Regions from separate parts of the Homo sapiens genome. Here regions 1, 3 and 4 are each reported to be linked to region 2. The links are microRNA targets in miRTarBase. Many come from high-throughput screens and were not tested one by one. Region 2 holds a microRNA gene; each other region holds the end of a gene's coding sequence.
Evidence for each region. Region 2 holds the annotated microRNA hsa-miR-450b-3p (UUGGGAUCAUUUUGCAUCCAUA, at 1,025-1,046, shown strand). A microRNA usually pairs through its seed, bases 2 to 8, with sites in the 3' UTR of a target mRNA and lowers its output. Matches are read on the target gene's strand: a 7mer-m8 pairs with bases 2 to 8, a 7mer-A1 pairs with bases 2 to 7 and ends in A, and an 8mer does both.

Region 1: miRTarBase lists CD4 as a target of hsa-miR-450b-3p. Seed matches in the 3' UTR shown: 7mer-m8 at 2,452-2,458 and 7mer-m8 at 2,182-2,188.
Region 3: the mRNA of KCTD21 is a reported target of hsa-miR-450b-3p. Seed matches in the 3' UTR shown: 7mer-A1 at 2,386-2,392 and 7mer-A1 at 2,617-2,623.
Region 4: the mRNA of GPR137C is a reported target of hsa-miR-450b-3p. Seed matches in the 3' UTR shown: 7mer-A1 at 1,553-1,559.

What each region holds. Positions count from the first base shown.
Region 1 is chr12:6,818,704-6,821,803 of GRCh38, reverse strand. It overlaps CD4 (CD4 molecule), which reads right to left. Exons shown (of 10, transcript NM_000616.5): 9 at 2,890-2,957; 10 at 1,005-2,505. The coding sequence ends at 2,475. Among named protein-coding and RNA genes, the nearest start is that of GPR162, 1.6 kb to the left of the region's middle. RefSeq lists enhancers at 1-972, 1,943-2,443, 2,444-2,944.
Region 2 is chrX:134,538,140-134,541,239 of GRCh38, reverse strand. MIR450B (microRNA 450b) reads left to right here and starts at 978; the gene lies at 978-1,055. It overlaps MIR450A1 (microRNA 450a-1), which reads left to right and starts at 809; the gene lies at 809-899. MIR450A2 (microRNA 450a-2) reads left to right here and starts at 633; the gene lies at 633-732.
Region 3 is chr11:78,171,164-78,174,263 of GRCh38, reverse strand. It overlaps KCTD21 (potassium channel tetramerization domain containing 21), which reads left to right. Exons shown (of 2, transcript NM_001029859.3): 2 at 1-3,015. The coding sequence ends at 492. It overlaps KCTD21-AS1 (KCTD21 antisense RNA 1), which reads right to left. Exons shown (of 3, transcript NR_102281.1): 3 at 287-444. Among named protein-coding and RNA genes, the nearest start is that of KCTD21, 16 kb to the left of the region's middle. RefSeq lists an enhancer at 1-425.
Region 4 is chr14:52,634,777-52,637,872 of GRCh38, reverse strand. GPR137C (G protein-coupled receptor 137C) reads right to left here. Exons shown (of 7, transcript NM_001099652.2): 7 at 160-2,935. The coding sequence ends at 2,758. Among named protein-coding and RNA genes, the nearest start is that of ERO1A, 59 kb to the left of the region's middle.

The DNA of each region.
Region 1 (3,100 bases), not on the chromosome of region 2:
CTCCCTCCTTCCCTCTCTCCCTCCCTCCCTTCCCCCGGGCCTCCCTCCTCCCCCTCAGTCCCGGCCTCCCAGGCTCAGCCCACGGCTCACTCGGTCTCTGCCCCTCTCACTCTCCAGGACCCTCTCTCCCGGGGTCGTCCTGCCAGTGAGCCCAGGCCAGAGGGAAGGCAGGACAGCTTTGTGGGGGGCGGGGGGGGGCGGGAAACGAGTGCAGGGTGGGGAACTGGACGGTGGTGACTCGGGGAGGAGGGGCAAGGAAGGCGCTGAGAGGGAGGGCGGTGAGGAGGATGGCTGGGAACCGGCTTCATTGGTGAAATGGTTCATGTCCTGCCCCCACCCCTTCCCGTTTTCAACACGAACACAAGCTCCAAGAGGCAGCTGGTGTTGTTGGGGACTGAGGAGCTAGCTGTTCGGGGAGGAGGAAGCGTGTGTCACTGTGTGTATCTGTGTGAGGGCTGGGCCTTGGGTTTGGGAGTGAGGGGGCTTGTGGTGCACACTGGGGCTGCTTGTGGAGTTGGGGGTGGTTGTGCACAAGCTAAAAGGATGTGGGCGCATGCATGCACACAGACACACACACTCTGCCTCCTCCTCCTGGAACACAAACACATATGTTGGGGATACAATTTGCACACACATGTTACAGTTTCTCATAGTCCTTTTTCTCTGCCACACACATACACCAGGAGAGCTCACACAACCCTGAGTCTCTCCCCCACGGTATATCACACACATGTAATTACAGAGTCTCAGCCTCACACACACACAGGCCCACACAGAGCCCTGTGGGTTGTGGAGGTGGGTAGCCAGCCTCCACAGAATTTTTCCCTCTCCAGGGAAACTTCATCTCCTTCCTGGGGCACGCCCAGCAACCTCTCCTCTGGGTCCGACCCCAAAGACCAGAAGATTCCTGGTCCCCAGAGAAGGGGTCTCTCTCTCTCTCTCTCTCTCACACACACACACACACACACACACACACACACACACACACGAAGAGCATCTTTATAGTAAGTTTATTGTATTTTTATTTCAGCTCAGGGGAGCAGGGGTGGAGAGTGGGCACAAATGCAAAGTAAGCAAATGGGGAGCCCCAGCAGCAATAGGGGGGTCTTCCTGGAAGAGGCAGGCTTTAAAGACAGGAGGAGAAGGAAATAGGGAAAAGGAGTTGGGACTGAGGGAAGTGGTGAGGAAGGGTAGGAAGAGAGGGGATCCTGAGAGAAGTGGATCAAGAAGATTTGTAACCCTGATTTCCCTGTGTCCTGAATGGTCTGGAGGAGGGTAAGGGAGGGTGTGGGGCAGGCGCAGAGCCTGGCACAATCACCTTTGAGGTCCCTTAGAGGGTTCCCTCTCAGGCTAGCTACCCCCTCTCCCAGCAAAGCTCGCTTCCAGGAGGTTCTGCACAGGGTCAGTGACTGGTCACTGGGCATTCTCTCCTGCAGTGCCTGTGCTCCCAGCTTGCGCTCTGATTAGAAGAGCCAAAGGCTTTGTCCTCTGGTAACAGATTCTGCCACCAGCGGGGGATGAAGGAGGGATTTTAGACAGGGAGGCCTTCATCCCTGCTCGTAAATTCTCTGAGATGGACCCTTCCCATGGGTGCTGTGCTTCTGTGAACCCAAAAGTACACATTGAGTACCCACCACTAGCCACTGGTGAGAGCCGTGTGGCATTTGTCCCTGCATTCAAGAGGCAGCAGTGGAACTTGGGACAAGGGACCTGGGTTAGTCCCGACTCCAGCACTTGCTAGTCCGGCACTTGGTAATCAATCATCTAGCCTCTCTGAGCTCTGGTTCTGGTCTATAAACTGGAGATGATCATCTTAGTTCTGTCACTGCCAGCCTTGTAGGATTTTTCTAAGTCTCAAATAGACAGAGGATGTGAGACATCCCTTGAGGCCGTGTACATGGGGCTGTGTCCAGAGGGGCTGTTTGTGCAAGGTCAGGATGTGAGTCTGTGGTCCCACCCACATAGGGTGAGAAGCGGGCAGCATGGGGCAGGAGGTACTGGCTGCCAGAAACCTCTGGATCTGCATCCATCCTTGACTGGCTTGGCTGTGTGATTTTGTGCAAGTTCCTGCCCTCTGTGGTCCCAGGGTCCTGTCTTGTAAAAGAACAGTCCCATGCTCCATGCTTCCAGACACCCAGCCTCACCCTCCATGCCAGCCAGGGCTGGCCCTGAACACTCCCCTGGGATCCAAATGAGCAGTGGGGAGAGGGTCAGAGAGAAATAATGAGAGAAGGGCTAGGCTTGAAGGAAAAGGAAATGGCGTGGAGGACGGTGTGATTAAGCCTCTGGAAACTAGAGAGCAACACTCAACCAGTGAAGCCGGGGCCTAACCCAGGAGAAACAATGGCAAATTGTAGAGGAGGCGAACAGGAGGCCAGAGGCTGGGGATCTGCTACATTCATCTGGTCCGCAGGCAGGAAACGCGGGGCAGACACCTGGGGAGGCTGCAAGTGGGATCTGCCTGGCCTCGTGCCTCAAATGGGGCTACATGTCTTCTGAAACCGGCTGCAGGAACAAAGAAGAAGGGGAGCAGGTCTGTCCCCACTGCAACCCCTTTGCGTTCTAGCACCTCCAATGGCCTTTCCAGCGCAGCACAGCTCCAGTGGCTTTCCAGCAGGGCCTTTCCTGGCCTGCTGCTCCTTCAGCTCCATCCTCCCACTTCTGCCTCCTTCTAGCTCCTGGCCATCTTTTCCCACCCCTCTATCCTCTCCACCACACCCCTTTAGCCCCCATCTCCTCACCTCCACCCCTCCCAGCTCTTCCTCCTCAACTCCTTCCTCCTCTCCATCCTCCCTTCCTGCCCCCCTTTGCTCCCCTTCCTCCCCCTCCTCTCTAACTCCCTCCCCCTCCCCCTTTCCCCTCTCTCAACCCCTCCTCCCAGATCCTTACTGAGGACACTGGCAGGTCTTCTTCTCACTGAGGAGTCTCTTGATCTGAGACATCCGCTCTGCTTGGCGCTGTCCAGGGACAAGAAAGGGAGTCACGAGGGTCCCAGGCCTCCAGAAGGGAGGTGCCCCTTGGTGGGGGGAGTGGGGGAAGCTGCGACAGGAGAAGCAGTTACATGGCCCAGGCCATCTATCCTGGAATTAACTCTCTGCTC
Region 2 (3,100 bases):
GGAGGATGAGTTGTGTTTTCATAGGAGTGTAATGGGAATGCCTTTATTTGTGTCTTTATTGCTTTAAATGTTTGTTGAATGAATTGAAACTTACATAAGGTATATGATTTTATACTTGTGCTAGAATGCTAAAATAAAGAATTTATGCTCAAGCAAACAACTGGAAAACACTTTGCTATAAGCATTACAGACACAGGGTCATTTTTAGTATGTTGAGTCCACACAAGTGGTCAAGAAAAACCATAAAAACTACATGAACAGAAAGCCCCAGTTAAAAAAAATGCATAAAGATGCTCATTTCAATATTTTAAGGATGGAAGTTAGGAACATCCTGAATGACCAACAACAAAGGATTAGACAAATAAAATACAGCGTAGCTAGCTAGTACAATAGAATAGGATGCTTTCATGTAAAATAATGTTTCTGAAAGTAATTTTCATGTCATGAGAATGTGCTCCTGATAAAACATTTAGCGATTGAAAAAAGGTGCAAAATATTTTCCCATCTCTGCAATATAGGTATATAGGGAGCATTCTGTATGAATAGTTTTGTATCAACATACAGATAAAAGGCTAGGAGGAAACATATAAAAACTTTATTGTGATTATCTCTGAGTTGTGGTATAAAGGTGACCAAAGAAAGATGCTAAACTATTTTTGCGATGTGTTCCTAATATGTAATATAAATGTATTGGGGACATTTTGCATTCATAGTTTTGTATCAATAATATGGGGAAAAGAGGCTATCAGGAAGTATACCAAAAGTCTAGAGGTGGTTATCGCTGACTTGTGTCACTATAGGCAATCAAAAACGATACTAAACTGTTTTTGCGATGTGTTCCTAATATGCACTATAAATATATTGGGAACATTTTGCATGTATAGTTTTGTATCAATATACAGATGAAAAGATGGAGGGAATAAGCAAAAAATCTAACAGCGGCTATCTGTGGTTTACTTCTGTGATAAATGTAAGATGCAGAATTATTTTTGCAATATGTTCCTGAATATGTAATATAAGTGTATTGGGATCATTTTGCATCCATAGTTTTGTATCAACATATGGAGAAAAGTCTAGGAAGAAATATACCAAAACTTGTAACAGTATTATAGTATAAAATTATAGGTAATGTTTGTTTTTCTCTTTATACTTTTATGTATTTTCCAAGTAATATTTGCATAAACAATAAAATGCATTGCTTTTATAGCAATAATAAAACATTTTATTTTTAAAAAGAGTTTGTATTTTTTTTAAAGCATGAACCCCTGACATAAGGGTGGGGGAAGACTTCCTATTTGGCCAGCAGTGGGCCTAGAATACTTTTTCAAACATATCTGGGAAACCTTTGTACAACTTCAGTTGGATCTGCAGTGCAAATGTGTTTTCATTTGCTCTTGGCAAAGAAAAGAGAAAGTATAACTAAAAAATATAACCACGACAGAGTTATAATAGTAATATTAGTAAACAAACTGCTATCTATGTCTAATCAAAGTAACATTTAAAGAAGTATAGAAAGCTGAAACAGGCTCCTTTTCCTCTAGTAGCAATTCAGGAAGGTGGTACTTGGATGCTCGCCCAGGGCCTCAAGACGCATTGGCCAGTTTGAGATATGCCCAAGTCAGGAAAACACCTTATTTAGGTTATTTCCACTCAGCCAACTTCTTGCAGATGCGGGTAAAGCCCCCCCTGCATTTTCCCGCAAATTCAGCTGAGCTCCATAGTAACTCTGGTGTTGCAGAACACATGTGACACCTCAATTTAGGCGATCCTTGTTCTGGTAAGAGATGGAACCATTTGGTCACGTACCTGGCCCATGGTCTGAAGGGCACCTACCAAGGTTTTAGCGTTCCTCAGTGGCACTGATTTGGACAGAGACACATTACAGGAGGATCTAAGTTCCTTCCTATCTTTTTAGTAGCATTTTGGGAAACTGTTCCCCCACCAAGGACATATTTGGCACTCTAGCAAGTCCATATGACTAGACATTACTTTCTTTTTTTTTTTTTTTTTTTTGAGACGGAGTCTGGCTGGCTCTGTCACCCTGGCTGGAGTGCAATGGTGCGATCTCAGCTCACTGCAAGCTCTGCCTCCCAGGTTCAAGCGATTCTCCTGCCTCAGCCTCCCAAGTAGCTGGGATTACAGGTGCCCGCCACCTTGCCTGGCTAATTTTTTTGTATTTTTAGTAGAGACGGGTTTCACTGTGTTAGCCAGGATGGTCTCGATCTCCTGATCTCGTGATCTGCCCACCTTGGCCTCCCAAAGTGCTGGGATTACAGGCGTGAGCCACCGTGCCCGGCCGACATTACTTTCAAAATAGATCCATCATATTCCTTAAAGGAGAAGCTGAGTTGTGAGGCAAATATATATACACATATCCATTTACAAAGATACAGGAGACCATTCCTCCAATTTTCTGATGCCCTGCCCTTGTTCTGCTTAAGAACATACAATCATACAACCAAACTGGTCCCCATGCTTAAATGTGTGTACTCCTCTTTAAGGAGCATAAGCATTTTTATCTGCCACACTCTGTCAATCAGAGCATATTTACTGGGTGCCTACCTCTGTGCTAGTTACTTGTGGATAGAGGAGCGGGTAGGGGAGAAGCGGAGGTTAAGGTGATACTGAGCCAGAGAGGCCTTGAACACACGAATACTTTGTCTGCCACTGGGTACAGAGCAGGGATCAGCTGAGGCTTTGACCTTCGTCTGAGCCAGGTCAGACCACACAGAGAATCTGCTTTGCTAAGCAACCATCTAAGTGGCCTCCTTTCCCCTAGGGCTCACTCTAGTCCCTGCTGGACAAAATGTATGGAATAGGGGCAGAGTGTGGGAGGGACCCCTTTCTAAATGGGAGGTCTCGCCTCTAGGGCTGAGAAAGAGAGAGAGAGAGAAATCATTCCAAATTGAGCATTGATCTTAAGCCCCTTTCGTTGACCAGTGAAAAAAAAATCTTCAGCCCCTGAATTTCTTTCTATATATGTATATATAGAGAAAGACAGAGAGACAGGGTCTCACTATATCGCCCAGGCTAGTCTTGAACTCCTGGGCTCAAGCGATACTCCCACCTCAGCCTCCCAAAGTATTGGGATTACAGGCGT
Region 3 (3,100 bases), not on the chromosome of region 2:
GAGAAGGAAGTGGAGCTCTCCAAGGCCGAGAAGAATGCCATGCTCAACATCACACTGAACCAGCGTGTGCAGACGGTCCACTTCACTGTGCGCGAGGCACCCCAGATCTACAGCCTCTCCTCTTCCAGCATGGAGGTCTTCAACGCCAACATCTTCAGCACCTCCTGCCTCTTCCTCAAGCTCCTTGGCTCTAAGCTCTTCTACTGCTCCAATGGCAATCTCTCCTCCATCACCAGCCACTTGCAGGACCCCAACCACCTGACTCTGGACTGGGTGGCCAATGTGGAGGGCCTGCCAGAGGAGGAGTACACCAAGCAGAACCTCAAGAGGCTCTGGGTGGTGCCCGCCAACAAGCAGATCAACAGCTTCCAGGTCTTCGTGGAAGAGGTACTGAAAATCGCTCTGAGCGATGGCTTCTGCATCGATTCTTCTCACCCACATGCTCTGGATTTTATGAACAATAAGATTATTCGATTAATACGGTACAGGTAAAAGGACCCCAACAACACTGGAGATGGGGAGTCCCAGGAAGCTCATGTCAGCCAGGTCTTGGAGGGCATCTCGCCAGTGGTGCGAGGCAGGGGACTATACTAATCTGTATTAATTGTGTAGCAGGACTTGATTCCCCCCATGATGAAGTCCACCTTTTGGAATCCAGTGTCCTCTGAACAGAACCACCTTTTTTCTTGCCATTTTGAGCTGCAGACAGGCGGTTTATTATGACAAGTGAAGAGTCAGCTGATGTGTACTAAAGGAGGCCATAGGAGGATTTTCCAGCCAGGACAAAAGAGCAGCAGTTTTCTCCTGGGCTCCATCTCTCTGTACCGCTAGCCAGTGCCGCATTTATCCATCTGTAAGAAGGCCCTGGTGGAGAGGATGGGATGAGAACAAGAGGCTACCTCCAGTTAACCAGGACATAAAGTCCCCAGCGGTTCCTGTCACACCTGCTCCTCCCTCCCCAGGGTGCATCCATGATCGTGGATGTTTGCCCAGGGGTGACCATGTTTGGCTGGCTTGGAATGCTGTGCATTCTCAGAGCTCTGTTAGTGTCCCCTCTTGGGGGTCAGAGATGAGGTGTGGCAGGGTCTAGAGGAATGAGTGTCCAGGCAGAGTTCAGAAGGTAGGAATGTCCCTCTTGATAGGGCTGAATCAAGGGATTCCTGGCTTTAGAAAGGGTCTGCTATCTTTGCAAAAATGTGCAAGTATCTGTAGCCAGTGTAATGAAATCACTTCCAAATCCAGCCTGTTACCTGACTTTTGTCATTGTTTTCCCAAAAATTTGAGGTATCATTGAAACAGGTCATTTTAAACAAATCTATTACGGATTCTCAGGGTTGGAAATAATTCGATGATTGCTTAGTCCTCCCCCACCCCTAGAACACCCCAGCACATCTGAAGATGAGCGCCTCTCCCTGGGTACCTGCAAGTGATCACCTTGGCCTGCTTGCATACCTTGGCTGATAGGAAGCGCGCCATCCCCAAGGCAGCTCCTGCTGTGGTTGGACAGTGCTGACTGTTAGACAGTTCTTCCCTATATTGAGCCAAAATCTGTCCTGCCACTTGCTGGATCTTGGTTGCAGACCTTCCCATTCACCCAGTTATATATCTTTGCTTTCAAAATAGTCACCTTGAGAGACCAGACATTTTTCTGAAAACATCATTACTCAGAATTCAGATTCCCCTCTGGGATCTGTCTTCAGAATCAAAGTTAGCTCTTTTCTATCCCCTGTAAGTCAGTCCCCTTTTGTTGTAGCTTCACCTCGTTTGTGACCCCCACTTCACCCACCTTCCCCACCATCTGTGGCTCCATATACCTTTCGACCATTTTCTGCTGGAAGAGGAAGATTCACGGCCCCTGAGGAGATCCAGAGGAAAGAGACGGTCTCCAAGGGTGCTGTGCAGCAAGGAGCCCAGGAGTGGTATGAACCGTAACAGTGCCCTTAGAGTAAATGTGCGGCCCCTAAGACCCTGCCCTCAGGAAGGCGGCCTTCCCCTGCAGTCCTGTGTCCCACCCCTGGGTCTCTGTAGGGTGCCATCCAGGGCAAGCAACCCAAGCACTGCTTCCCACCGGGTGATGAGCCATGCAGGCCTCCAAACTGCACGTCATGATTCATCCCTAAAGTGAGTTTGGCCTTGAGAGTCCCCAGGGTCCTCCCCCACTGGGCAGGGGTCCTCAAAGCCAAGGAAGCCTGGTGACACAGGCACCCATGGGAGGTGGGCCCAGAAAGGGGCTTCCCATAGATAGGCCCTGTGAGTAGGGAGCTTGTACACTGGGCCATGGGCAGCGCCAGTTCCCTTGAGCAGTAAAGGCCCTTTTCCCCCTACGGTGGGACCCAGGAGTCTCTCTGACAGCTTTTCTGCCAGGCACAGTGGCTCATGCCTGTAATCCCAACACTCTGGGAGGCCGAGGCGGGAAGATCACTTGAGGTCAGGAGTTCAAGACCAGCCTGGCCAACATGGTGAAACGTCGTCTCTGCTAAAAATACAAAAATTAGCTGGGTGTGGTGACAGGCGCCTATAACCCCAGCTATTTGGGAGGCTGAGGCAGTAGAATCGCTTGAACCCAGATAGCAGAGGTTGCAGTGAGCTGAGAGTGTGCCATTGCAGAGAGACTCCATCCCAAAAAAAGACAGCTGTCCCAGGCCAAGGGTACTTGGGAGAGCCCCTCATGGAGAACCTAGTTTAGACCAAGTAGCAGAAGCTGTGGTCATAACAAAACAATTTGAGGAAGAAATCTTACAAATCACCACTGCCCTTTCTCCTTTTCCATAAAACTGTCCATCTTTTCGGTGCTCCCTAATCCAAGCAGCTTGACTTTAGAGAAGTTGCAGAAGCAGTGAAGCCACTAACATGCTGTGTGACTTTATGCAAGTCACTCACCTCACTGAGCCACCTCCATTTCTTCATCTGTGAAATAGGCATAACAGTAATACATAACCCTACCTACCTCACAGGGCTGTTGTGAGGATCAAATGAAATAATGTAACGTGAGAATACAGTATAAATGATAAAGGATTGTTATTCTTTTGTGTCTGCTTGTAACGGGGAAAAACACTGGTCTTGAGTCACAGTGACTTGGGTTTGAATCCAGAGCTCCAAG
Region 4 (3,096 bases), not on the chromosome of region 2:
TGACATCCAGATGTAAGTAATTATGAGATCACTAAAGGCGAACTATCATTTGTAACTCCTGATTTTTTTTTTTTTTGTGGTAGCACTATGTTCTTATTCTTATATGATAGAAACTCAGTATAGTCCATTATAAGAGATGAAGAAAACCAGAACTCTAAATAAAAGCACAAACACTTTTATTTTTAATAGTAGTGTTTTGTTACAATTTAGTGAAACAACAAATAAATACATTCATTGGCCACAGCTATACTTTTACAACCAGTTTGAAACTGATTATATAGCTGAGAAACACTGTTAAACAATAAAAAAGGCAGCTATGCATAAAAAAGCCACTTTAGCTATAAATTACATTTTCCATAAAACTACAACCAACTACAATGAGTGGTAAAGGTTTCAAAATTAATGGCCACCCAAGTGAAATGATGAAAACAAATACTGCTAATCACTATAGAATTACACACTTAAGTAATGAAATTCACTTTTTAATGAACAAAAATGAAGGTTTGATACTGTCATCATGTGCTTCAGTGCAGGATGAACAGGGAATCGGTAGCCCTTTGATTTTATAAACAACTCCTTTCGAGACCAAACTTAAAGTGCTCCTAGTGCTTTGGAATTTTTAAGCAAAGATTGGGCCAGAGTGTATCTTTATTTGTCTTTGGTGATATGTTAGATGTGTATAAGGAGACAAATGCAAGAATTTGGGTACCCTAGTCAGTGATAAGAATAAACTTACAAACCTCAAATTTGGAACAATCAACTAATGCAGCAGAAAGAACCAAGTTATTTTATCTGAAAAATTTTTAAAAAGTAATCTTTGTTAGTTTGGTCAAATAGGAACATTATCGAGGGGAGCCTTACTAGAAAAACTTTATCACCTTGAACCCCAAGGATTAACAAAGACAACATATCTTTTTGGACAGCTCTAGATGATTAGATGCCTAACATTATTAGCAAAATAAACAGTTAGCATTCTGAGAAGCAATCTAACAACTGGAGTTGTAATAAAAGTACGCTTTTGTCACTTAATACCACGGGTAACTTTTTATACTATACATTTTAAAATAATTTGGTTACAATGAGAGAATTATAAACAAACCCAAAATAACATAAGTATATGCTTCTGATTGAATACAAAGTCATTTTGTATCATAAAAAGAAGAAATTTATTTGTCTGTGTACTGGCCTCCCAAAAGATCGAAAGCATTAACAATTTCAATTTTTCCTTAAGGTTTCAACCTAGTGTTATACTTTTATGAAGTTATTGTATCAGTTGTTAAAAAGTTGAAGTACATTTTAAGTAAGCGAGGAAATAACATTCTAATCAAAGTATAAAACAGAAAAGGATAGTCGTATTAGTTCCAGTTCTGAAGAAATAGCTAGCAGACAATTGTAGTTTGTCTTTGAGCATGTTGTGACAACTTCCCAATGTTGCTTGTTCCCTTGGCATCTTGAGGTATTCAGCATCTACTTCTTTCCATATAGACACTGGTACAAAGTGCATTTTAAAATTCTGTATTATCTCAGCCTGCCATTTTCTTTTTTTTTAGATTTGGGATAGGACATTTAAGACAGTTTTAATGTAATTCTAAAAGTACTCCAATATTGTTAACCTGTGGTTTTATACTTACCTAGTTTGTACATTTACTTAAGTTTGCTCATTTAGTCTAATGCTGGAATTAATCTGAATTCAATTTAATTTGGCTTTTCCCATATATAAGATATAAAAATGTGAAAATCATAGGAATTATATGTCTTACAAAGTATTGCACTTGAGTTCACTGCAATAATGTATCATGATTTCATTTACCTGAGGACAATCCTGATTCACTAGGTAAGACCAGCTATATCATGCTTCAGAGAAATCAAATGCTTTTGAAAATATATTTATGTTTTAATTTAGAATTACACATTTTGTGAATAATTCTTAAATGCATCTCTAAACTTGTTTAGTCCCAAGAAGTTTCTACCAAAATCTCCCTATGCAAAAGTCACTATTGCTTTCTTCAAGAATCATGCTTAAACTACTACATATATCTCAATTACACAAAATAATCAACTGACCAATTCTACTCAAAATAGCCACACAATTTTCACTGGTATATTTTCCTCTTGAAATTATTGTGGCTCTCCAAAGAACACTGCTGGCCATAACTAATGGATTACTACCATCATTTGTTTAAAATGATTGAATTTCAGTTGCTATTTTAAAATCATGCTTAAAAGAACTGTCTTCAATGATTACACATTTTCAGTAGATTTTTATAAAGAATGATACATTTTTATGCCTTAACTCTGTGCACTGTTCACACTATAAAATTTTTATTAAGATATCTGTATAGAGCATACCAATGAATATACCGGCTTTGATTTTCATAGGAAAATTGCCTTCCAGTTTGGTGTACAATACAGTATTTCAGTGTGAACATTGGCATATGACTTTGGGGACTGCAGTGACTCAGAACAAAGATAAAAGTGCACATATGCATTTGATGTTCCAAAGTCAGGATTTTTGGAGGCCATCAAGTGCCTTAAGATCTAATCTCTCTTTTCTCCTACTCCAAACTTTCCATTTTACTTCATTTTACTATGAAGAGGTCAAAAATAATAGCTGTGTTATTTACCAAACACAGCCACACTTCCAGATTTTGTTTTCAGTTGCAACAGATAATGGAATGTTTATGTAGATGGAATTTAAACACATTGAATATACACATTTATGAAAAACAACTCAAGAATCATGACTTGGTGATGCTGTCAGTTTTGTGGTGTCACATATAAGCTATGATGATTGTTCAAATCTAAATTACTACAAGTAAAGAGCAAAGGAGCAGTATCTGTCATAGGTCCATTCAGGTGGGGAGTGACTGTGTAACTGCTGCTGCCACACCCAGTCATGGTGCCATACCAGCCCAAACTTTGCGAATTTGGTAAACTGCAACAAAAAAAAGGCAAAAAGACCATAGGACTATGATCAGGATATAAGAAGTCACATTTGAATTTTTAGCATTTTCAATGAATTTTGTAATAAAGTTAGCACTCAAATACATTGAAATATGTTCTTTGTCAAATAACAAAATGCTTTTCTACAAATTT